3 separate regions of the Homo sapiens genome follow, and all the other regions are linked to region 1. The links come from fine-mapping of genetic effects on gene expression. A gene starts in region 1. Each other region holds a variant in brackets. All regions are shown on one strand. Distances are from middle to middle.

Region 1 (8,410 bases):
TGGGGTTACAGGTGTGGGCCACTGCGTCCAGCAAATAGAAAAGAATGTATGGCCTTCTTTTTATTCATTCATTTCATTCATGTATGACATTTGTTTGTTTGTTTTTGTTTAGTTTTTTTTTTTTTTTTTTTTGAGATGGAGTCTCGCTTTGTCACCAGACTGAGTGCAGTGGTGCCATCTCGGCTTACTGCAACCTCCAACTCCCTGGTTCAAACGATTCTCCTGCCTCAGTCTCCCCAGTAGCTGAGATTACAGGCATGCATCACCACGCCCAGCTAATTTTTGCATTTGTAGTAAAGACAGGGTTTCACCATCTTGCCCAGGATAGTCTCAGCCACCTGCCTTGGCCTTCCAAAGTGCTGGGATTACAGGCGTGAGCCACCACGCCTGGCCAACACATGCTGTATTTTTAAATTATGAGTTCAAATGGATATTTGAAGTAAAATCTAGTATTACAGAGTTTTCACATTTTCTTTGATGTGATATTTTTGTATCTCCTTTCTCTTACACTGAAAATCTTGGTTCTTAATAATAATTATTAATTCTTTGCAGATCTTTTTGCCCTTAGAATACATCCCTCTAAGGAGGTACAATCAGAATACTGTTTTCAAAAATCACTTGAAATAATTATTTTCTCTATATAGTTATGCTACCAATTACATATACGGTTGGGTTTATTTTTTCATTTATTTTTGATTTTCAGGTTTGTCTTTTTCTATTTTAATTTTTGAATATGTAAAACATTTATATGGTTCAAAAGTGAAAAAAATATAAAAAGGTATACTCAGAGAGGACCCTGTTTCATTCCTTTCCACCTCATCCTCCATCCCACTTAGGTAGGAATTGATGTTAGCTTTTTATTTATCCTTCCAGTGTTTCTTTTTGAAAAAAAAATTTTTAATATTCTGTTCCTTTTATATTTAACAACGTATCTGGAAAATTATGTCAAGTCAGTACACGCGAAATTTTCCCATTATTTTTAAACAGCTGCATAGTACTCCATAGTGCTACACTGTGTGGATGAACTGGATTAAATTAGCCACTTATAGATGTATGTGTATATAAGTACCTTGTTAGACAATCACAGGGTTCTCTCTGGTATCTGGTCATACTCGTTTTCTAGAGTGGCTGCAACAGATTACCACAAATTGCGTGGCTTAAAACAACAGAAATTTATTTTCTCACGGTTCTGGAATCCTGAAGTCTGAAATCAAGGTGTTGGGCTTCCTCTGGAAGACTCCAAGGGAGAATCCTTTCTTGCCTCTTCCAGTTTCTCTTGGCTATAAGGGTCTTTTCGTTTGTGGCTCCATAACCTCAATCTCTACCTTGGTCTTCATGTGCCCTTCTCCTTTGTTTCTATGTTTTCACTTCTTTTGTTTCTTACAAGCACATTTGTCATTGGATTTAGGGTCTACCCAGATAACTGAGGATCTTATTATATTTGCAAAGATCCTTCTGCCAAATAAAGTCTCAGTCACAGTTTTCAGGGATTAGGACATAGACATATCTTTTTGGGGGGAAGGGTGGGCACTGTTCAACCCACTACATTGGCTATTATAAATAGTGGTGAAAGGAATAAACTTCCATGCATGGTTTTATATTTATTTCTCCATAGAGTTATCCTACCAATTACATATATTGTTAGTTTTATTTTTTCCATTTATTTTTTATTTTCAGGCTTGTCTTTTTCTGTTTCAATTTTTGAATATGGAAAACATTTACATGGTTCAAAAATGAAAAAAATATAAAAAGATATACTCAGAGAGGACACTGAGTCCTTTCCACCTCATCCTCTATCCCACTTAGGTAGGCATTAATGTTAAGGTTTTTTTTTAAATCCTTCCAGTGTTATATATTAGAATATCTGCAGGGTAGATTCCTAGAAGTCAAAATTCTGGCTGGGTGTGGTGGTTCACACCTGTAATCCCAGCATTCTGGGAGGCTGAGGCCCGTGGATCACTTGAGGTCAGGCGTTCAAGAGCAGCCTGGCCAACATGGTGAAACTCTGTCTCTACTAAAAATACAAAAATTAGCCAGGCATGGTGGCACATGCCTGTAATTCCAGCTACTCAGGAGGCTGAGGCAGGAGAATCGCTTGAACCTGATAGGCAGAAGTTGCAGTGAGCTGAAATCACACCACTGCACTCCAGCCTGGGGGACAGAGCAAGACTGTCAAAAAAAAAAAAAAACAACAAAACATGGGAGGCCAAAGCCCATGGATCACCTGAGGTCAGATGTTCAAGACCAGCCTGGCCAACATGACAAAACCCCCTCTCCACTAAAAATACAAAAAAATTAGCCAGTCGTGGTTGCGCACGCCTGTAATCCCGGCTAATCGGGAGGCTGAGGCAGGAGAATCGTTTGGACCTGGCGAGATAGCTCCACTGCACTCCAGCCTGGGTGACAGAGCCAGACTTCATCTCAAAAAAAAAAAAAAAAAAAAGAAAAAGAAAAAAGAAAAAAAGAAATTGAAATTCTGGGTCAAAAGGCAAATATTTATTTTTGCCAAATTTCCTTCCATAAGAGTTGTAGCATCTAACATTTCTACCAGCTATGTTTTCTATAGCTCTGCCACCAGACTAGAGTGTGTTATCACACCTTGTCTCTGTAGAGGTTTTTTGTTTGCTTGTTTTTTCTAATTCAAATGATATTTCAGAGTAGTTTTAATTTGCATTGCAAGTTTTAAACTTTTGATCTCATTATTCTTATTTGCTGATTACTGTAGGACATTTATTCAACAACACTTAATGTCTGCATAACACTCGGCACTCTATAACTCCAGGGATAAAGAATTCAGTGCAAAGCAAGTGAAGCCCTCAAAGAGTTCACAGCCCAGCAGGAACGAGTTTAGAAAGAACAACAGAAAATAAGAAGAGCCATATGGAATATGCAAGTGGGTGAAAAAGTACCAACATAATAATACTATATGTTTCTTCCTTTTTAAGAGAAGAATTGGAGTTCTACATTTTCATTACTGGGTAAAGGCTAGATATGATGGGTGCGATGAATTTATATGCACAGATGCCTGTTTCTGGCATTACCAAGCTTGATAGTATCACATGTTCACTGTACACTGTCATTTATTCCCACATGTATCTAATCGCTCAGCCTCCTTAACTGGATTGGAAGCATTGGAGGTCAGGAGGATGCACCTTATACATCTTTTATCTCCAGGGTTTAGAATCATGCCTTACACATTGCAGGTGCTCAATAAATGTTTGATGATGATGGCAGCTTGCTTTGCAATTAAAAAAATGGAGTTTCCTAAGACAAGTATATTCTATTTTTTCAATCAGTGTAAGGAAAAGTATCTTCTCCTAAAGGAATTGGACAGTGAACATTGTGGTTTACTATGTGTAATCAGGTACAAGCTCAATTGCTGTAACGAAGACTCTCAAAATGCCTTGACTTAAGATAAGACATTATTTTGCTCTCTTGTTACACTTTTAGAAGTTTGTGGTCCTGATCTGTTATCATCTGGGGACTCAGGCTGGTAGGGCCGCTCTGCCATCATCTTGAGCATGGGGCTTTCATCTCCGGGTCTGAGAGTGATCCATGTTATTGGGTTTATCAGTAGTCTGTTCTTTTTTATTGCTGAGTAATATTCCTTTGTATGAATGTGTCTATACAAAGGAATATTACACAAATCTAAAAATAGAGAGACGCTCTAAAACTGTGAGTTTATTTATTTATTTTTTCCTTTTCGCCTGCCTGGTTGAAATATGTAGGACTACTTTAGCTTTTTATTGTATTTCATTTAATAAACTTTTATTGAGTGACCCTATGGGCCAAATACTGTGCTGAGGGATGGGGATACAAAGGCGTGTAAATCCTTGTCTCTTCCCTCAAGTTACAGTTCAGCTAGAGGAGAAAAAGACAGTTGTGTTGTCCCAATTTGGATGGAAACCACGTGATTCTACCTTAAGTACTTGCTGAAAAAGCTGAAAGGATGTCAAAACTTGCAGGATTCGGATGCCACTATACAATCCTACAGTGTAAGAAATCTCCTGACCATCTTTCAGCTCAAAGTCTTGCCCCAGGGAATAAGCGCCTGGCTTTAAAAAGTATACAGGCCTGAGTCAGATCCCTCAGGTTCTATTTCTGGTTCTGCTACTGGATCGCCATGTGGCTTGCACAACAGAGAACGCACCCTTCCTACAAAGAGGCAAGATCCCAAGGAGCCCTCTGAGCGAGCGACCTCCATACCCCAAGTGAGGTTGGGTTCCAGGAACCTAGGGGCCGGCTGAACTCCTCACCGGGGCACGCTCTTCCCTAGTGCCAAAGCAACTCATTTTAGTGTGAAATTAGAGCTGCGATTTCGGCACGGTCAGAGGGGCTTCGACTCGCTCCCTTGTGTGAATCCAGAAGCTAAACCTAAAAATAGTTTGCATTTGAAAAGCCTTGACACTTTTCTTACTGAGATTTTTGGGCGTGTGTGGTTCACGTTGCACTAGAGGAAAATGGGGTGGGCGCGCAGGAGGGAGAGTGAAACCACGGGCGATCTAGGCTGCCGGGGCAGGGGACGGACAGAGGCCGCCCTGCGCTTCTGCGACCCTGGAAAAGAGGTCGCAGCGCGTCGCCTGCTGGAGAACTTCATTTCCCAGGAGCACTTGCGGCCCGCGGCAGGGCGGGGCGACGTGCCCAATGCCGGCCCACTGACTCCCATCGTGCCGAAGACCGCCAGCCTGATTGGAGGACTGTCTCGCGGTGCATCTCGGGACTTGTAGTACAACGTGTGCGTGAGAGAAGCTCCTTTGTGATTCGAGGCGCCTTCTCGGCCCTCTGAGCGCGTCCCCGCTAGGTTTTGGCGCGGACGGGCTAGTGTCCCGCCAGGAGAGTTCGGCCTGTGTGCGCGTGCGTAGCGCCCAAGGGGCCGGCCGGCACCTCCCGCGGGGCGGGGCCTTCGGTTCCCCGTCGACACCGCCTTCCTGCCCCGCCCCTCGCCGTGACCGGCCCGCCCCTCCTTCCTGGAGACACAGCTGAGGCGGCGGCGGCGGCGGCGGCGGCGGCAGCAGCGGGGCTGGGGGCGGCGAGTGGCCCGCGCGACACGCGCCGGCCTCGACCCTATGCTTTGATTCGCGTGGCGCAGGCGCCTACTGCCCCGCCGGCGGGGCCCGGGCTTCCTGCCGCGGGATGTTCTCCCGAAGGAGCCACGGGGATGTGAAGAAGTCCACCCAGAAGGTGCTGGACCCGAAGAAGGACGTGCTGACCCGCCTGAAGCACCTGCGGGCGCTGCTGGGTGAGGCGCGCGCCGGGCGCGGGGGTCGGGGCGCCGGGTTAGGGGCACCTGCCGGGAGGGCGCTCCTCTGTGCAGGGGTCGGTGGCTGGGAGGCTGGGGAGGGGGATGGGTGGGCGTCCGACCCCCTTCCCTGGATCTGGGCTTGGACCCCCGGGGCTTTGTTTCCAGAAAGCCGCAGCCTGGCCCTCGGGCACTGCTCCCGTCGCCCTCGAGTTAAACTTAGCCCAGATTCTCGCTGGGCGCCTGCGCTCCCGGAGAACCTGGAGGCCGGGCACAGAGGTACCTGTCCCCTGTCCTCCCAGCAAGTGAACTGGATCCCAAGTGGTCATCACGTGCACACATTGAACTGTCACCTCCCCCTTTCATTTTTAAAATTTTATTTTTGAGTCTGAGACCCTAAGTAGACCGAGACCCCAAGTGAACCCAGCACAGACCTAATTGGGCTCTCATCTCTGTCATCCCCCTTTTAAATTTTATTTTTACTTTTGAGTGTGAGACCCCCATATAGACCGAGATTCCAGGCGATCCCAGCACAGATTTGTCATCTGTCTTCCCATGCTGCTTTTTAAATTTAATTTTTATTTTGGGTCTGGCTGCTTCAGTTTCTTTGTGTCCTTGGTGTGAAGGGGCCTTCTCTTCCTGCTTGGAGAGAGGGGTGGTTTTCTTGGGTTCAGGGAGGCTGCTTCTCCTTTATTACCGGCATGACAGTGATGCTGTCTGCCACCTTCTGGTTTATGGCCTGCCAGGTGGAGGTTCTGAGGAGCTCAGGTGGGCTTGGAGTTGACCTGTGATGAAGCTCGCCCCTGTGGGTGTGAGGTGTCCACAAGGCTTCCTGTCACCTGCTGCATGTGATCTGTAGCTGGTTCGCCTAGGCTATGTTTTGTTTTCTGTATTTTTTTACATCCTAAGTCTTAACTTTTCTTTGGGATGAAAACACCTTTGCTATCTATAGACACACTTACCTGTGTATTTGGTGGCGAAGGAAAGAACACCTTATGTTTCTTCCAGGTGTCTTTTAGTCCCAAAATTCACAAAAATCGCCTAGTGCTAATGTGTCTGTCACTTGAAAGAATATTGCATAAAATGATTTAACGTGTGAAGATTTTAAATAAAGATCTTGTTCATGAGATCAGAAGTTGCTGATTATTTCTATTTATATTCTACCTCTGAGGGGGAGAAGAACCCAAGCCAAACCAAACCACACCTGATTTTGCCAAGTGAAGTTATTCACAATCTCACATACCTTGAGGTTACACTGACTTGTTCAGTTTGAAATGAAATGTAAATTAGTTGCTGTTACAGGGATTCGTTTTCAAGACTTTTGAGAGTGAAGTGTGGAGAGTGAAGTGTGGCGTTCTTGGTAAACTGAATTTTCTACTTCCTGTAGATACCATGCACGCACAGGTTGCACAATACACAGGTTGCATTGTGTGGAGTTCCTGGTAGTGACTGATTAACACCTACTGCAGGGACATTTTTGATAAAGGAGAGTTGAGCTGTGTTTTAAAGCGTTTGATACTTTGAGCCTTTTTCTGTGCTTTAGCGTTTAAATTTTTGTTCTGTCCAGGTCTGCAAGATTAAGTTGGCTACATTTTATAAAGGCAGAATCAAGTAAACCTAGATCAGGTTATTTCTTAGCACACAGTACATTGTTCCCATTCTGAGAAAGTTGATTCTTTTCAAGTTTGTAAAATTGTAGTTTCACTCTAAGGTGTAGGTCTTATTTTAGGGAACTTTCTTTTATCATTTCACTGAACTCATCATGACCTCAGTTTTGTAACATGGAGAGGTTCTTTTATATTTCCTTAGGTGTATGTTTTTTGTTGATATACTTACTAGTGGAGTGGCCCAGTTTGCTTTGTTTATTACTGTGATCTTTGTAGGGACTAGATTTTTGTAAAATGTGTCTGAGGAATTCTAGTCATAATATTTAATGTAAACTTTCACTTGCTCCTGTGATTTATTAAAGACTTAAAAAGTAGTACGTAATGCACTAGTTCCTACCTAATCACATATTCTATTTCATTGCTACTCGAAAAAAAGTCTACTTAGAAAACAAAGGCCTCTTGAACTGAAAGTTAGGAATTAAGCCAAGATTAAGGAAACTATTTGAAGGAAATGAATAGTAATTACTATTGTATTTTTATGTGTGTATTTATATAACACTTTTGCTTTTCATATATTTTATCTTCAAGTGATAATAAAGTTTTTTTTTAAGTATGCAAAGATTATGCCACTTACTTGGGTATTTGCAGCCTGTCCCTGCCGCCTGCAGCTTCATGACTTGAGCTAGTTACGTAGCCTGTCTCTGAACCTCGGTTTCTTTGCTCTGTAAAATGGGTATGGTAATGTTTGCTTTTTAAAGGATTATTGTGAGTATGATGAATAAATGACTTCAGCTTGAAGTAGGCCTTTAACAGTTTCTTTCCCATTACATATCTCCCACCATTAATAGGATAGGACCAGTATTTTGATAGGTAATTTTTCTCCGTCTTTCTTATTTTTGATAATAGTGATGAATTTGTTCTCTTTTCCTAAAAAGTAGTCTGTATTTAAAACAACTGGGTGAGAAACATAAAATTAGCTGTGGAAGTAGAGTATTTCTTAGTATCATGGTAATAACTCCAATTTGGATGTAGATACTTTCACCTGGCTATAGACTGGTCTGGTATGATTAACTTTATTTTACAGAGGGGTAAGCTGAGGCACAGGCAGGCTTGACACGTATCAAGCCATGTAGCAGACGGTTTACTTATGTTAGAGGAAGAACGAAGAGCTGTTAGGTCCTGTGACTTCCAGTTCTTCCTACACTGTTGACAAAACAAAAACCAAAAAACCCTGTGTATTACCATATTGCTCCAGCAAAGATTCCATGTCTTTTTTTTAACAGGATCTTTGCTCTGTTGTCCACGTTGGAGTACAGTAGTTTGACCTTGCCTCAACTGCTGCAGCCTTGGCCTCCCTGGCTCGAGTAATCTCCCACCTCAGCCCCTGGAGTAGCTGGGGCTACAGGCATGTACCACCACACTAGGCTCATTTTTGTATTTTTTTTTTTTGAGATGGAGTCTCACTCTGTTACCCACGCTGGAGTGCAGTGGTGCCGTCTTGGCTCACTGCAACCTCCGCCTCCTGGGCTCAAGCAATTCTCATGCCTCAGCCTCCTGAGTGGCT
Region 2 (8,410 bases), 75 kb after region 1:
GAATATTTATTTGTGGCAGATTTATAGGTTAAAATTGGTTTATTTTGAAATGGATATGTCTTTTATTATAACATATACTTCTTGATGCTGAGATAAGATTACCCTAAAACATAAATGGCAGAAAAAATTCAGCCTGGGATGAATATTTTATGAAAGGTAATTCACTTGGAGTTAATTAAGTTGTGCGAATGCCTTTAATAAGCTAATATATTGGTTGGTTTACATTGGCTTAAACAATCACAGCCTCTGAAAACTTGATATGTTAACTATTTCTTACATGTTGAAAAAAAACGAAGTGAGTTATTCCTAGCGTCACTGTAGATTCTATATTTTGTCCCTCTTATTTTAAGGAAATAGGCTTGTAGTTAAAACCTATCAGGTTGTTAATCTCATGTTTATAACTACCCTTATTTATATTTAGTTCTCTTAAATACAGTTAACATATAACAATTGGAGACTTGTGGTAGAATTTCATAGAAACTTCCCTCTTGTTCAATTAAATATAATTTGATTAGATATACATAGAGCTGGCCAGGCACAGTGGCTCATGCCTGTAACCCCAGCACTTTGGGAGGCCGAGGCAGGCAAATTGCCTGAGGTCAGGAGTTCGAGACCAGCCTGGCCAACATGGTGAAACCCCGTCTCTACTAAAAATACAAAAATTAGCCGGGCATGGTGGCATACGCCTATAGTCTCAGCTACTCGGGAGGCTGAGGCAGGAGAATTGCTTCCACCTGGGAGGCAGAGGTTGCAGTGAGCTGAGATCATGCCACTGCACTCCAGCCTGGGCAACAGAGTGAAACTCCATCCCCCGACCCCTGCCTCAAAAAAAGAAAAAAGATATACATAGAGCCTTCTCTTCCCTCCCCTCCCCTCCCCTCCCCTCCCCTCCCCTTCTCTCCCCTCCCCTCCCCTCCCCTCCCCTCCCCTCCCCTCTCGGTCTGATGGCTGAATAGTAATGTTACCACTCATTTTACCTGCTTGGGAGAGGAGGACAGGTGTGAGTGGGCATGGAGGTTTGTGCAGAACAGTGGTGGAGTCCAGGACTGTGTTTGGAAGTACACTGTGAATTTACCCCGTTAATGGGGCAGTACTGTCACCAGCTGGGGTGTCTGTCCTAGTGTATTTTGGCTTCTATTGGGAGAAAGCAGAATATTTTTATTTATTTATTTAGGCTTTTCTCCACTTTTTGGTTTGGTTTTCTGGCAAAGCTTTGTGTTTGACTTGCAATATTCTTGCTCTGGTGGAGTCAGCACCACCTTGAATTAATTGAAAGGAGATGAGGCAGTCACTCCAGTTGCTGGCATTTGGAGCTCACTACATCTTTCAGCTGCATGTGACATTTTTTCAACCTCTTTTGCTTTTTTTTTTTTATTGACATAATCTTTTCAGTTATTTAGGAATACAGAAATGGAGGGACATGTGCTTTTGAATTCTAGGAATGGGATAAATTTGAAGTGTAAAGAAAGAAAAAGGACACATCTCCCTATGTAGATGTCTCCTACAGCGTGATGCTGGCAATTCAGAGCATGGCAAAGGTGTTGGAGAAATAGAATAGGGACATAAGGTATAAGAAGAGCTGCTCTGTCTCATTGAGGTTATTTAGCTCCATATCTTCTGATTCTCAAGAACATTATCAACATGGCATATTATAGTGATAGCACATGTAAATTTGGAGGGAGATTATCTTTGTCATTGTTTTTATGGATAATTGAGGCCGTGGGTACTGTTGCCTTACAGAATAAGATACTATTAACAGGAAACACTTACATAGTGCTTACTGGGAGTTAGCCATTGTGTTATTTGGTTTACATATGTTAACTCAGTCTTTATCATAGTCTTTTGTGGTAAATGTCTTATCATCCTTATTTTACAGATGGGGAGACTAAGGCATGGAGAAGTTAAGTGGTTCTCCATGGGTCCCAGCTAGAAAGTGGCAGCGCTTACATTTGAACCCAGGCACTTTGGCTCCAGAACCCAGGCTCTTAACTCTTGTGCTGTATTGCAGCATCTTTGCTTATTTGTCACTAAGTGAAGAATTTGGTTTACTACTTAACACACCTTTAACTTGTAGTTTTTCTTTCTCAAGACCGATGCTACATTGTAATGCATTTCTGTAAATACATGTGTTTCATTTTCATTGTTTTTAATTTTGTTTTAGATAAGATGTGAAGGAATCAGGCTGTTTCTTCTGTGGCTTCAAGCACTTCAGACAAACTGTGCAGAAGAGCAGGTTCTGATTTTTGCTTGCCTGGTGCCTGGTTTCCCAGCAGTCATGTCATCCAGGGGCCCTTGCACACTGGAGACACTCATCAATCCCAGCCCTAGTGTAGCTGATGGTAAGTTATGTTAGCAGATCTCCCATGTTGAAATTACTCTTGAACTTACATTGAGGAATTCTTACTTTTTCATTTTCTTGAATAGAAATCCTGATGGAGTCTGAAGAGGAATTATTCCCCTTTCATATTCACTGTAGATTCTTACATACCTTAGAATCAAAAGACTTGGAGCTTATTTTATATGAAATGAAAACAGGAGAAATGTACTGAAGTGATGGAAGCAGGAATAGGAGGGGACAGATGTTGGCAGTAGCACGAAGTAGAGACACATGGGAAGTCTGGACTGGTTTTCTGGCTGTTAATGAGATTAAACTCCACCATCCAAAGCTATTGTTTTTATTGTTCTTATCACTGTTGTTCGTAAGTGGACATTCATCTGCTCACCAGGATCTTATTTTGCCACTGTATTTTCCTGCATCATCTATGGAAGGACAATAGTGGCCTCATGGGACTATTAACGGTGGTCATTTGTGTCCTGTGAGTTTTCAAGGAACTTGCCTGTTAGGACCATTGATTTATTACTGTATATTGCGTTATTGCTTAATGACTGGCATTTGATCTTGGGCTGACCAAAGCAGAATTTGAACGGGAAAGAATGGTGCAGCAGGAGAAGGCGCTTCGTGGGCATCTGGGCTGTGTTTCCAGGCCCTTTATGCACACTGCCTTGGAGTGTGCTCCTCAGTGTGAGCTGCTTCAGTGGATGGAGAGATGTATTTTAATAGAGACCATTTTTAAAACCCTAAATTCTGTTTAAAATTTAACTTTGGTGAATGAGCTGTCATCATTTTCTGTCCTTTCAGTAAAGATATATCCAGAAGAAATCACTCCACTCCTACCAGCCATATCAGGGGAGAAGATTGCTGAGGACCAAACCTGCTTTTTTCTTCAAATACTGTTGAAGTATATGGTTATTCAGGTCAGAGAAAAATTATGACTATTTCAGTGATGGGTTTATTCTCAGCAGGAAGAGGAAATATTGCCTCTTTTCCCTCTGTGTATCTATATTTTTCCTCTTTCTTTTTCTTTGAGGTGATTTTATGTGATATTTCAGCAAATGCAGAGTGTGTACCATTTTTTAGGTCACTTCAGCAAGACCAGCTGTATGTACTATTTTGTGAGTGTGTTTAAACCATTTTTCTCTCTTTACTCCTTTCCTACCCCTAATCTCTATGCTTGCAAGACAGGTTGAAGGAGGAGGCGGGCCCAGAGGCTGAACAGGTGGACAGGAATAGGCAGAGCAGACCAGGGGATCTGAAGGGAAGCACATGGAGCAATCTCCTCATGCCATTGGCACAGGCCTCCTTTATGTCATGTATTATTTTTCTCATATGCACCAATTGCCTACAGAACTGAAGTAACTGGTTTATGATTTTAATAGGAGATTTGTGACTCCTGGTCTAGATTTCTGAATAATAGTTAGAATAAAATGTACTGATTCTTTTTTCTCAGCAAATACTTCTCTTGTCCTTGAGTTCATCCTGGGTATTGTCCAGTATCTGTCTTCCCCTTCACAACCGAGTTGTTGAAGTAATAATCTCTACTGAGTTCACATCCTCATTC[A/G]TGTTCTTTTGACACCCACTGTTAGCTGCCTTCTGCCCTGTCACTGCTAAAGTGGCAAGCCCCAAACCACAAGGGTTCTAGGGTCAGCCCAGAAGGAGGGCACACTTCAGGTTTTGCTCTCCTCATTCTTCGAGGGGATTTAACTACCCCTCCTTCATGAGATTCTCTCCTCTTCTGATATTTTCTCTGGCAATTCTCCTCCCTTCCTTTCACTCCTTTCTAGTTTTCTTTAGGGAACTGTGCTTTTCTCTGCTGTCTCTCAAGATTCAGTACTTGGCTGCTCTTTCTGAATACTTAGCAATTTTGTCCCCTTTCCTTGCCCCTTTGCCTTTAGCCAGCAACAGAAACACAGGACTTCACAATCCTGAGAACCTGACTGGGGCATGCTTTCATATTCTGGAAACTCCACATTTGAACTCTAATGGCCCATTCTAGATGCATCTCAAATGCCAGCTGTTCAGAAGTGTTTGGACATTCAGTTTATCCTGGAAAATCAACAGAGTATCCAGAACTTGTGTTGGGGGCCTTGGGTTCTCATTCTAGGTGTGTCACTAATGAGTTGTGTGACCTCAGATAAGGCGGATGGAATTGATATAGGATAGAGGTTTGCATGCAGACTGTGAACTTCCTAATTGTGTGCAGAGTTTTAGGTGCATATCTGTGCCTCCCTTCTGCCTTCTCTTCTGTCGATTGAGATGAGTTCTCAGAGCACAGCTTTTGGCAGGTTATGGATGCTGAACCCCGCTGCCCCTGCGGTAGCCAAAGCATCTCATCCCTTTACCTCAGGTGCTGCACAAATTTCATTTTCTAAGTGGGCATGTCAGGAAGGAAGTTGGGAAGCCCTGCTTTAGAGTGCTCTGTGGTCTAACAAGCATTAAGAACCACCAACAGGTCTTATCTAAGGGCTGTGTTTCCCTAAGTCATGTTGGGGGTGACTGCACTTGTGTAACCAGGCTGTCCTCCTGGCTCCTGAGGGGCGGTCCCAGCTATTGAGCAGTTTTGGAGTGCTCCCACTATGCAAACACTGATGGGTTTTTGAGGGGGAGGATATTATCTCAACACAATGAAACATTTAAACTTAATCCATAGTGGACTGGCATGTCTGGTTTATCGTAGCCTTTGAATTTTTTTAATACGGAGAATGCATTTTCCAAGATTCCATGGCTTTTGCCTTTTGATATTGGTTTTACATGTAGGTAACATTGGTTGAAATTCTTGAGAGGGATTGTTTCTTTAATTTCTATTTATTATAAATGGCCTTTTTCTGAGTTTAGAAAAAAACACCTGATTGTTTGTGACTAAATGTTTTAAAGGCACAAGGAATGTTAGATAATTACAAAAAACGTAGAGAAAAAATATGGGCATGATACATTACAGCACGTTATAAAAGATACGATATCATTGAGCAATTTGGTTCTAAGTAAAAATGCTGTTTTTAACATAGTTACTGTTTTGTTTTGAAGTATTCATTCCTGCCATCTTTTGAGCTTTGTTATTATTTCATTACATGATTGTCAATATTATTTGTCATTTTTTACATTTAGGTTAGGAATTTTAGTAACATAACAACACTTCAGTTTAGTATATGTTAATTTGAAATATAAATATACATATGTTCTTTTCCACATATTATCCAAAGGCTGCGAGCTTGGAGTGGAAGAATAAGGAGAATCAAGATACTGGTTTTAAATTTCTTTTTACATTGTTTCGAAAGTATTATCTTCCTCATTTATTTCCATCATTTACTAAGTTAACAAACATCTACAAACCTGTACTTGGTAAGTACTGTTGGAGCCGTGTATAGAGGATATCCAAAGGAAAGCTATGCAGTCTCTTTCAAAGTGACCTTTGATTATTTTAAAGTAAAATAGTCATTTTATTTTTGTATTGAATGGTAACTTTATTATTAAATGTTTAAAGTTTCTTAATAAGTGATTTTAATTATTTGTACCAACTAAGATATACCTCAGCTTACAGCAGTAAAAGGGAACCGTGGCTCCTATACTCAGAAATAATTTGAAATGTATTTATGATATTTTTGGTATAATTACATTGTCATCTTTTAATGTAAAAATCTCTGCATTTCCTGAAGTCTTTCCTTGTGGGTGGTGGGGTATGGCGACCTCAGGCTTTGCTCAGTGACTGGAGGCCAGCCCAAGGCAAACAGCTGCCATTGTATGCCTTTTATTTTATGCTGGGTCCTGCATCCAGCAGCTACTACTGACAGGTGCTTATGGAGAACCAAATTTTAGGTGATTGGACAAGCTATGGACAGTAAGCCCCAGAGGACTAGGAAACAGAAAGGAATTTCCAATTTGGCTCCTAATGTTTTTTTCTTCTGTAAGCAATGAGGACTCACAGGACAGAAGCATCCCTTAGAGTGGTAAAGGTGGGGGTCAAATCTTCCTCTCCCTATTATTTAAAACAGGTAAAACTAGTTCAAATGAATAATTAAAAACAGTTTTGGAGGGGAAGTGGTGACACGAGATGTTACTTTTTTGGGGAACATGGTCACCTGATTCAGTTGTCTGTACTCTGTGTGTTTCTATGTATGCGTACACACACACACACACACACACACATACACACACACACACACACGGGGAGAGAAGCCAAAACTTGGTGAGTTTTGAAAGATGTAGAATTACTGACTTTTAGGTGCACTGGGACATGTATTTCTTTAGCTATATATATGTGAATATTTTTTCAAAATTTGTTTCTGATTTTATATGTAGTCTAAATTCATTTTAAAAACATGGTATATTGTTAATATTCCTAGATTAAAAGTTATTTGTTGATCATTTTTCTGCCTCATACAGGTATTCCAGATATACAAAAATTATTAAGATAGAGAGTTGAACTTATGGCAAGTAGTATCTCAAATCCAATACCATATAATTTTCATATTGATTATGGAATTTAAAGAATGAGAAACTGACTTCTTATTAAGTCTTTGGAAAAGGTAGCATTTGATGCCTCAAAGGTGAAATGTGACTTTCTTAATTCTTTTAAATATAAAGTAGATGATATTGATTCTGTTTCATTGGATTCATCTAAAGGGAAAAGGATATAAACCTCTAAAGTTCAGTGGATTTAATCACTGCAGTGTTAGATGTTAAAATACCTAAAATGATGTTTTAAAAGTTCATATATACTTTTACATTTGTTCCAGCTATAAAATAAAATTAAATTAGGTATAATGTATGTGAAAAGATGTTTACTATTATAGTCTCATGTAATTTATCAAAATTGTTAAAAATAGTTGTTAGCTTAGTTTTTCCATAGCTGTATATCATAGATACATAAACAATCACCATCATCACTCATTCTCAGTCAGATCACAAGGCGGAATCAGAAAGGAGCCTACCAAAAAAATGCCATTTTAAATAATTGCGGTTCTTCATTCTTAGTTGCTATTTAGACAACCAAAAATTGGATTTAATTGGAAACCAAAACATTTGTAGGGATTACTTAATGTTATGATTTATTAACCTAATCAATCATGTGTTCTTTCTTCTACCAGACATCCCCCATTTGAGACCAAAGCCTGTGTACATTACTACCACTCGAGACAATGAGAACATTTACAGTACAAAGATTCCATATATGGCAGCTCGTGTTGTTTTTATTAAGTGGATTGTAACCTTCTTTTTGGAAAAAAAGTATCTAACTGCAACACAAAACACTAAAAATGGAGTTGATGTATTGCCTAAAATCATCCAGGTATGCCATCCATCATCTTTTTATCTGTTAATGCTTGTGTAATAAAATACACTGGAACATAGCCAAAGTTATTGATTGTTAGAGTTATTGGTTCTTACAAGTTGTTGGTTATAGGTAAGTGATTTTATTGGCCTACCCTGTCTGTAATGCCAAGGTTTCAGAGGGAGTTGTGAGTTTGAATCACTTGCTGTGCATTGTTGGGACTGCCATGATGATGCAATCTCGGGAGCCATTTTGAGAAGATAGCTGTTGTGTGCACACTCCTGGCTCCTCCTCATTCTCCTCACTTGAGTACCAGTGGCCTCTGAGCATGAGAACAGAGGCCTGTCTTGCTTTCACCAAGCCCCAGTAGCTGGAAGGCACTTAGGAAACTGTAAGTGGCCCCTGGAAAGGACCTGTGAAGCTGCCGAGCACCCTCTGGCATCTCAGGAGAGGGAAGTAGATCAGCAGCTCAGGATTTGGGGCTGGCTGTTGAGCAATGGTGGGGCCCCTAGAAGAGAAGCCCACCTCTTCCCAGAGGCCTTCAGAAGAGACCTCTCCTTGTGTGGGGCCTGTTGTGCTTTTTCTCTCTTGGCCTTGGTCAGCCATACACAATTGGGGTCTTTCCCAACAGGCTGAGTTACTTAGGGACTTGGTGGAGCACTACCATTTGTGGAGGTCAGAGAGCAGCCACTTCGCTAAGGGATCATGGTGTTGTGTGCTCTTTTGTTTATTGTCCCCAAGAACAGGGATAGGAAGTCTGGTCCACTGACTGCAGATTTGCCGATGCCCTAGAAGTCTCAGAACTC
Region 3 (8,410 bases), 45 kb before region 1:
GTTGTTTTGTGAGAATTATACAGTGACTTATTGAGTAGCTGTTGCCATCTTCATGAGGATGGGCTAGGCAGGTCCCCAGAGGTCCCCACCACTTCCTATTGTGCTATACAGCCCCCCCATAGGCATTTGGGTTTACAAACCATGGCACAAGGTTTCTAGGTAGGATAAGATCAATGTAAAACTTCCTGGGTAAATATTAGATTGCTACCTGTAAATATTTCCTGCTTCATTGAAGATGCATCTCCATCTGAAATAGATGATGCAGCTACCCTGGATTTCAGAAGTTTCATTCTTTTGCAGCAGAAGGCAGATCGAATACAGGGCAGGCTCCTTGGGCAAGATCAACTTGCATAAACCAAGTGGCACTGAAGACACAGAGGACAGGGCAAAGCAGCGGCTCTATGTGCTAACCAAATATGGAGGCAGGGGAGCCGGAGTATCAAAAACACCACAGCAAAACGTGACTGTAGCTGTTAAAGCCTAATGCACACACCCTATAATCCAGCAATTTCACTTCCAGATGCTTCCCTAAGGAAGCCCTCATGTGGGTATGTATGTTTTACTTAAGAAAACTTGAACTGGGATTCTACCACTTATTACCCATTCTGTCTGATCAGAGAGTATTCATTGATTGATGATTTATTTTGACACTGTATTAGCAGAAGTTGTTCTCTGAGCTTCAGTGACAGGCTTGATTTTTGCAGCTTATTGGAGTGTTTTTGTTAAGCATCATGCCATCCAGAAAAATTCAATGCCAGGAAGTGTTGCCTAATAGATAGAGGGCCCAAAGGAAACCCAGAGGGCCAGCCACACCAGCCAACCCCTCTGCAGATTGCTGACTGCCCGGGGGTAACCTTGCTCACAGCCTGTTTCTCTTATCTGTGCATGTAGCTCTTTGCCTCAGATCTTGAGGTCACTTTCATTTACAAAGAACCTCAGGAGGACCTTAAGTCTTTCTGTACCTCACAATGGATGAATACCTTTGCAACCATCTAAGGTGAATGTCTCATCCCTTTACCAACTGCATTTTAGTTGTTAGTGTAGGAGAAATAGCTGTTCAGACATCAGCCCATGGAGGTTTTTAGATGAGGCTGAAGTTAAATTGCACTTACAGCCTCAGGCAAGTCAATGAATTTATGTGATGAAAATTTTATTTAGCCAGATAGCTTTTCATCTGTCTTCTAGTTTGGAAGTGGAAATGCAACCTGATTTAATAATCAATAAATATAGAACGCTACCGAAATTGCAAGTAGAATTGTTCAAAATTATTATGGTATTACAAAACATTACGTTTCCTTTGACAATTTGAGACTGTGGGATTAGAGCAAGTCAATCAAGGCAAAGAATTTTAGCTTAGTTTCAATCCTCCAAATCTGTCCAATACAAAAGATAAGCCTTAACTATCAAAGTTTGTTAAGTTCTTTAGGGAAAATTATGTAGTTAAAGAAGTAAGAAACACACCAACAAGGATGAATTTCAGACATAATGTTGGGCAAAATAAGTGAAACACAAAAGGCTATATATACTGTAGGATTCCACATGCATGAAATTCAAAAGCAAACAAAACATCTATGCTGATGTGGCTGCCTCTGGGGGGGTCCTGGAGAGGGACAAGACAGCCTTTCAGGAGCTTGAAACATTCTATGTCTTGTTGGTTTCATGGCTGTAGACATGTCTAAAATTTATCAAGCTGTGTATTTGCAATTTTTGCCCTTTGCTGTATACAGGTTATAACTTAAAAAAAAAAAAAAAAGAATTCAGCAAAAAATCACCAGGTACACACTGGTAGCTTAAGACTACTATTTTGTAAATAATTTATCTATAATTTGGAATTATTCTTTAATATTTTAGGGGTCTCTGAAAACACAAAAAAGATAATCCATGAATAGTTTGATCTATACTTAGAGAATAAATGATTTGGGTGACTAATGAATCAATTTGCTTTATTATTTATTTATTTATTATTTTTGAGGCAGAGTCTCACTCTGTTGCCAAGGCTGGAGTGTACTGGTGCAATCTCGGCTCACTGCAACCTCCACTTCCCAGGTTCAAGCGATTCTCGTGCCTCAGCTACCTGAGTAGCTGGGATTACAGGCATGCACCACCACACCTGGCTAATTTTTGTATTTTTAGTAGAGATGAGTTTTTGCCGTGTTACCTGGGCTGGTCTCAAACTCCTGGCCTCAAGAGATTTGCCCACCTTGGCCTCCAAAAGTGCTGGGATTACAGACATGAATCACCATGCTCGACCAAATCAATTTGTTTTAAATGAATCTCTCAAAATGAACAATAATGAAGCGGCATGATCTTTGCTTAACCTGATTTATTTCTCAGTTATGTGGATAGTAATCTCACTGTTAAAGTTATTTGATATCAATGATTTGGGCCATAGAGAATGTTCCATGGCACTATATGTTTAATTACCTTTATTGTTCATATGCCCATATCTAATTAGAAATAATCATCCTGTAATATCTTCTTGTACATATTTGCTCAGATATTATCTTGTGAGGAACAGGTTGATTAACATTTTTCTTTCAATATGTTTTCGTAGTTTTCTTCATGGTTTTCTGCAAAACATCAGGTGTGTTTCTAAAAATACATCTATTTGTTGTTGTGTTCTGGTTGTTGGATGGAAAAAAGTGTTGACAAATTATTAAATTATTCTCAAAGCTATAATTATTATAATTTCTTTTGCAGCAATCCATTTGAAAGGAAAGAAGTGTCACAGCCCCTGATTTACCAGCGAACAAAAAACACTTGTTAATAAATCTTCTGCACAAAGAGCACTGGAACGTTTTGTTTATTTTCAATTGCATGCACAATGACTGTTTCCAGTTTATTTTTTTTAACTTCTGCCCTAGAGTCCTGGCACTGAATAAAGCTCAGATACACAAGAAAACAAGGAAGTGACTGATAAAATCATGTCACAAAGTCCAGAGCTAGGTAGTTTATTCTGTCCGTAAAGACTATAAAAACTTGGCCTGGTGCAGTGGCTTATGCCTGTAATTCCAGCACTTTGAAAGGCTGAGGCAGGCGGATCACTTGAGGCCAGGAGTTCAAGAGCAGCCCAGGCAGCATGGAGAAGTCCCATCTCCACGAAAAATACAAAAACTAGCCAGGCGTGGTGGTGCATGCCTGTAATCCCAGCTACTCAGGTGGCTGAGGCACGAGAATTGCTTGAACCCGGGAGGAAGAGGTTCCAATAAGCTGAGATTGGGCCACTGCAGTCCAGCCTGAGCAACAGAGTGAGACTCTGTCTCAAAAAACAAACAAATAAGCAAACAAAACACAAAACAAAACAAATGAACAAACAAAAATCATAAAAACTCTTGTTTGTGGTCATGTTTGGTGGGATTCCACCACCTGGACTGGACAAATCCCCATCTTCCTAAATCACAGGTTAGGCTCCCAGAGGTTGGGTGATCTATAGCAGGCACTGTCAGCACTCTGTCTAGAATTTTTTTTTCTTTTTTTCTGAGACAGTCATGCTCTGTAGCCCAGGCTGGAGAGCAATAGTGTGATCTCAACTCACTGCAACCTCTGCCTCCCGGGTTCAAGCAATTCTCCTGTCTCAGCCTCCCGAGTAGCTGGGATTACAGTCACGTGCCACCACACCCGGCTAATTTTTGTATTTTTAGTAGAGACAGGGTTTCACCTTGTTGGCCAGGCTGGTCTCAAACTCCTGACGTCGTGATCTACCCGCCTTGGCCTCCCAAAGTGCTGGGATTACAGGCGTGAGCCACCACACCCAGCCCACTGTGTCTATATTTTCTTGAATGCCTTTTCACTGTGTTTGTGTGCCACTCCCCTTACTCCCCACCAACACTTCAAACTTGGGTGTGCTTTCCTTCCAACAGCCTGATCTACGCTCTTTGGAGGTATGTTCTTCCACTACTGGAACAATTTTGTGCAAATGTAAACATTTTGTGCAAATGTGCAAATAACTTGGAGTGCTGGGAAGTTACTCCTCCAGTGATTATTGGGTGCTGGGAGCTCAGCTCCCTGTCTCAGGGTGCAATTCTGAGGTGTGACTTACATCCCAGAGTCCTTTGCAGGATCAGGCTGAAGTCATACTTTGCAGGACTTTGCTAGACCCTGCAACCTTGCTTAGCTTCCTCCCTGTCCCTTTCTGCTTTCCCATTTCTTTAGTGTGTCCCTGGGGGGCACTCCCTTAATCAATCACTTTCACACAAATATTAATCTTAGGGGCTGGGCATGGTGGCTCATGCCTGTAATCCCAGCACTTTGTGAGGCCAAGTCGGGAGAATCACTTGAGGCCAAGAGTTTGAGACCAGCTTGGGCAGCATAGTGACACCCTGTCTCTACAAAAAAAACAAAACAACAACAACAATACAAACAAAAATGCAAAAATTAGCTGGGCATGGTGGTGCACACCTGTAGTTCTAGCTACTCGGGGGCTGGGGCAGGAGGATCACTTGAGCCCAGGAGGTCGGGGCTGCAGTAAGCCAAGCTTGCATCACTGCACTTTGGCCTAGGCGGTAGAGAGAGAGACCTTGTCTCAAAAAAAAAAAAAAAAAAATTAATGTTAGAATTTGCTTCTGGGGAACCTGAATTAAGATATGACGCTGAATCCTAATCTGTAATCTCCTTCGTGGGTTTCATGCATGCTATGTCATTATCAATATTTGAGGGGGATCAGGAGCTGGTCTGCTCACTGTTACCTCTTTTCTCCACCCTTTTCTGACTTGCAAAAATTCACTACTGCTCTAACTCCTTACACTCCCTTTTACACATTCAGCACCTTCAGGCTGTCAACAATTGCATGGTAGGTTGTGCATACCTTCAAAATGGCCTTTAGTGCAAAAAAGTTGGAACCACGAGTTGCCTACCTAATTCAGCTCTGCTGGGTGGGGGACGTAAACATAAATCCTTCCAATCAAGTTGGTGCAAATCCAGTGTATTAATTATTCCAGTTATTGTTACTGCAAAGCAGCATAGCTAGTTGAAATATAAGGCAATTTCTTACTACTCACACATTTAAAATATATGCA[A/G]TGAAGAAATAAACCAGATTTCTGCCCATTTTTCACTCCATGTGCACGACTGCAAATGTAATAGTGAAAACTATTTCAGCCCTTTTGGAAAACCGCAGTCAAACATTCTCTCATAAGGCGTGTTCCTGAATTTACAATATTCCTTAATATAGGTGTTCCATTACCAATTCAAGTTTGATGAAGCCCAATAGACCCCGTTTTACAATCTTGTTTGCCATGTCTTAGACAAAGAGAATTCTTACTTTTGTAGTTACTTCTAAAATCTCCCTGGAATAATAAAAAGGAATAATTAGACGTTAGTGTAAATCATTCAGCTTCTATTTTTGTAAATACATTTAAAAATAATTGACCAATCAAGTAACTAAGTTCCCGAGATTATAGCAGATGTTGCTTGCCTAAAAGTAGGACACAAAAACAGGACCATTCTTCCAAACATAGTACTTTTTTCTCACAACTCAAGGATTAAAACAGAACTAGGCAGTTGCGTTATTAATCACTGTGACAAACTGTTTTTTTGGAGGTAGCATTCTTGATAATTCAGGAGGCAGTTCTTATCCTCGACCCCACACCCGTGGCCATGAGGATAGGATAAAAGTGATGTCAAAGCATGGAGACAATCAGCTATTAATAGCTCCTGGTCCTTGGTCTTTAAGGAACCAGCTCTTTACCCAAGGACATGGAACATAAGAATTCAGGAATGGATGGCAATGTTCCACCATGGACCTCCTCAAGCTATTTTCTTATGTCGTACTTGCCTTTTTTGGGAAAGATGTCTGTGGTTTCTACCAAATTCTCAGATGGGTTCACGCTTAGAATTTTGTTTTTAAAAATCCCTGCAATAGGCCGGGCACGGTGGCTCATGCCTGTAATCCCAGCACTTTGGGAGGCCGAGGCAGGCAGATCACGAGGTCGGGAGTTCGAGACCAGCCTGGCCAACATGATGAAACCCCATCTCTACTAAAAATGCAAAAAAAATAGCCAGGCATAGTGGCATGCACCTGTAGTACCAGCTACTTGGGAAGCTGAGGCAGGAGAATTGCTTGCACTGTAGAGGCGGAGGTTGCACTGAGCCAAGATCGTACCATGACATTCCAGCTTGGGCGACAGAGTGAGACTTCGTCTCAAAAACAAAACAAACAAAAACCCTGCAATAGAATGTCCCATTCTGCTCACCCAGAACACGACCTTTGCACCTACCCTGATTTGACCTAATGCCATATCAGCCTCCAAACACCAGGTGAGGGATACTGTTGTTCACCCTGCTACAAGCCATCAGAGGCAGCTTAGGGCTGGAAAGAAGACACCCATCAAGGTGGTTGGGACACTTCTTAAATATGTACACTTTGCAGCTCTGTTTTCCAAGTTGATCGCAACTTGACTGTGAAACTATGACAGAATGCACAGCAGCAACAAAAAGAGAGTTCTAGCTTTGAGTCAAAGAAAGTGAGTAATTGTTGGAGATAATGTAGGTGGCTTGAATCAAGAAGGTAGAAGTTAAGATATAAAAAGTGGTTAGATATTGGATGTGTTTTGAAGACAAAGCCAAAAGAGTTTGCTGATCCATGAGTAGAGGGTGTGACAGAAGGAGGAAAGCAAAGATGGGGTTTGCACCTGACCAACTGGCAGGATAGAGTTGCCATCACTGCAGGGGGAAGGTATGGCTGGGGCACACTGGATGGGAAGATCTGGAGTTCTATCTCTGCGAAATTATGTTTGAGATCCCCATTAGACATCCAAGAAGAGATACTGAGGAGATATTCATGGGAGAGGTCTGATATAAACATGTGAATGTGAGAATCATTAGAATATAGGCTGAAAGCCATGAGACTCTTTGAGATTACCAAGAAAAAGAAGGAAGTGAAAAAGAGAAGTACAAAGACAGAGCCATGGGGACTCCAAATTTAAGGGATAGAAAAGATTGAGAGGAATTCCTAAAGCCAGATGAGAAGGAACTCCTACCCCAGAAGCCATAGGTTATAAGTCGATTTTCTTTTTTTTTTTTTTTGAGACAGAGTTTCGCTCTTGTTGCCCAGGCTGGAGTGCAATGGCGCAATCTTGGCTCACTGCAACCTCCACCTCCCAGGTTCGAGTGATTCTTGTGCCTCAGCCTCCCTAGTAGATGGGATTACAGGTGCCCGCCACCACACCCAGCTAATTTTTGTGTAGTTTTAGTAGACATGGGGTTTCACTATCTAGGCTAGACTGGTCTCAAACTCCTGACCTCAGATGATCCACCCCCCTTGGCCTCCCAAAGTGCTGGGATTACAGGCGTGATGGTTCGATTTTCTAAAGATAGCCTCACCACTATCTCCCTTGCCATGTGAGGTTAACACTGCTCCTTCAAGAGGTAGGGGACAATGTTTCCTCCCTGGGAATCTGACAGGCCTGTGACTATGGTAAAAGTGAAACTGGATGATTTCCAAAGCTAGATGACAAAGACACCACAAAATAGCTTTTGTCTGGCCTCTTTCTCTTGGAACACATGCCTTGGGAGGCCCAAGCCTACAGGTGAGAAGTCTGGCCACAATGCTATGGTTGCTGCCATGCTGGGGAGACCACGGAGAGAGAACAGATAGACAGAGACAGAGAGGCACAAGGATCCTAAGTGTTCCAGCCTCTAGGTGTTTGAGTCTTCCTAGCCCAGGCACCAGGCATATGAGTGAAAGAACTTCAGATCATTCTAGATCCCAACCTTCGAGCCATCCCAGCTGACATGGAGTGGGGCAGAAATGAGTAGTGCCCATGAAGTCCTGTCCCGATGGCAGATTCATGAGCAAAATGAATGAGTTGGTTATTTTAAGCCATTAAGTTTTGGGGTAATTTATTATGCAGTCCCAGTAACTGGTACACCAAATAAAGATGTCGTTTCTCAGAGAAGCACGTTCTCAACTCTGTCAAAGGCCGTTGTAGGTAAATGGAGATGATGACGGAGAACCAACCGACTGCTGAATCAAGGATGTAGAAGGCACTGGAAATGGTGAGGCATAGCTGAAATAACGTGGGTTTAAGAAAAGAATGGGAATTGAATTGGAAACAGCCAGTAATGGCTACTCTTTCTAGGAGTTTTGCTAAAAAAACAGATTTGAGAAATGAAGCAGTAGCTGGAGAGGAGAGTGGGGCCAGGAGAAAGGCTTTGGTTGAGGTTGAAGACAGACAGTACGTATGTTGATGGGAATGATGCAGCAAAGGGTGGGAAATGGATGATGCAAAAGAGAGAGGAGTGAATTGCTGGAGCCAATTCTGTGAGAGATAAGAGGATACAGGGTCCATGACTTTATAACACAGGTGGAGGGAATGGCCTTAGCTGGAGCTCAGCAAGTTTATTCATGGTTACAGAAGTAAAGGCAGAGTCTATGAGCACAGAAGCAGGTGAGTGGTAAACATCGTGGTGGAAG

Alleles and levels. Alleles are on the strand shown, and positions count from the first base shown. SD is a standard deviation of normalised expression in the study named. Not every link is listed here.
For the expression in whole blood of the gene that starts at base 4,970 in region 1, A is the low allele of the variant in region 3 and G is the other (small effect, 0.27 SD a copy in GTEx).

What was found. PIP is the estimated chance that this variant, and not a neighbour inherited with it, causes the effect. A credible set is the group of variants that fine-mapping cannot tell apart.
Region 2: its variant is the best candidate, but not a certain one, in a credible set for the expression of RALGAPA2 in whole blood (INTERVAL, PIP 0.78).
Region 3: its variant is the best candidate, but not a certain one, in a credible set for the expression of RALGAPA2 in whole blood (GTEx, PIP 0.71).

The regions. Positions count from the first base shown.
Region 1 is chr20:20,709,204-20,717,613 of GRCh38, reverse strand. RALGAPA2 (Ral GTPase activating protein catalytic subunit alpha 2) reads left to right here and starts at 4,970. Exons shown (of 40, transcript NM_020343.4): 1 at 4,970-5,239. The coding sequence starts at 5,134. RefSeq lists enhancers at 4,510-4,709, 4,534-4,828 and a silencer at 4,820-5,079.
Region 2 is chr20:20,634,630-20,643,039 of GRCh38, reverse strand. RALGAPA2 (Ral GTPase activating protein catalytic subunit alpha 2) reads left to right here. Exons shown (of 40, transcript NM_020343.4): 6 at 2,162-2,339; 7 at 3,140-3,255; 8 at 5,539-5,677; 9 at 7,423-7,622. Among named protein-coding and RNA genes, the nearest start is that of RALGAPA2, 74 kb to the left of the region's middle. The variant A/G (reference allele first, on the strand shown) is at 3,900.
Region 3 is chr20:20,753,896-20,762,305 of GRCh38, reverse strand. No RefSeq gene overlaps it. Among named protein-coding and RNA genes, the nearest start is that of RALGAPA2, 45 kb to the right of the region's middle. The variant A/G (reference allele first, on the strand shown) is at 5,016.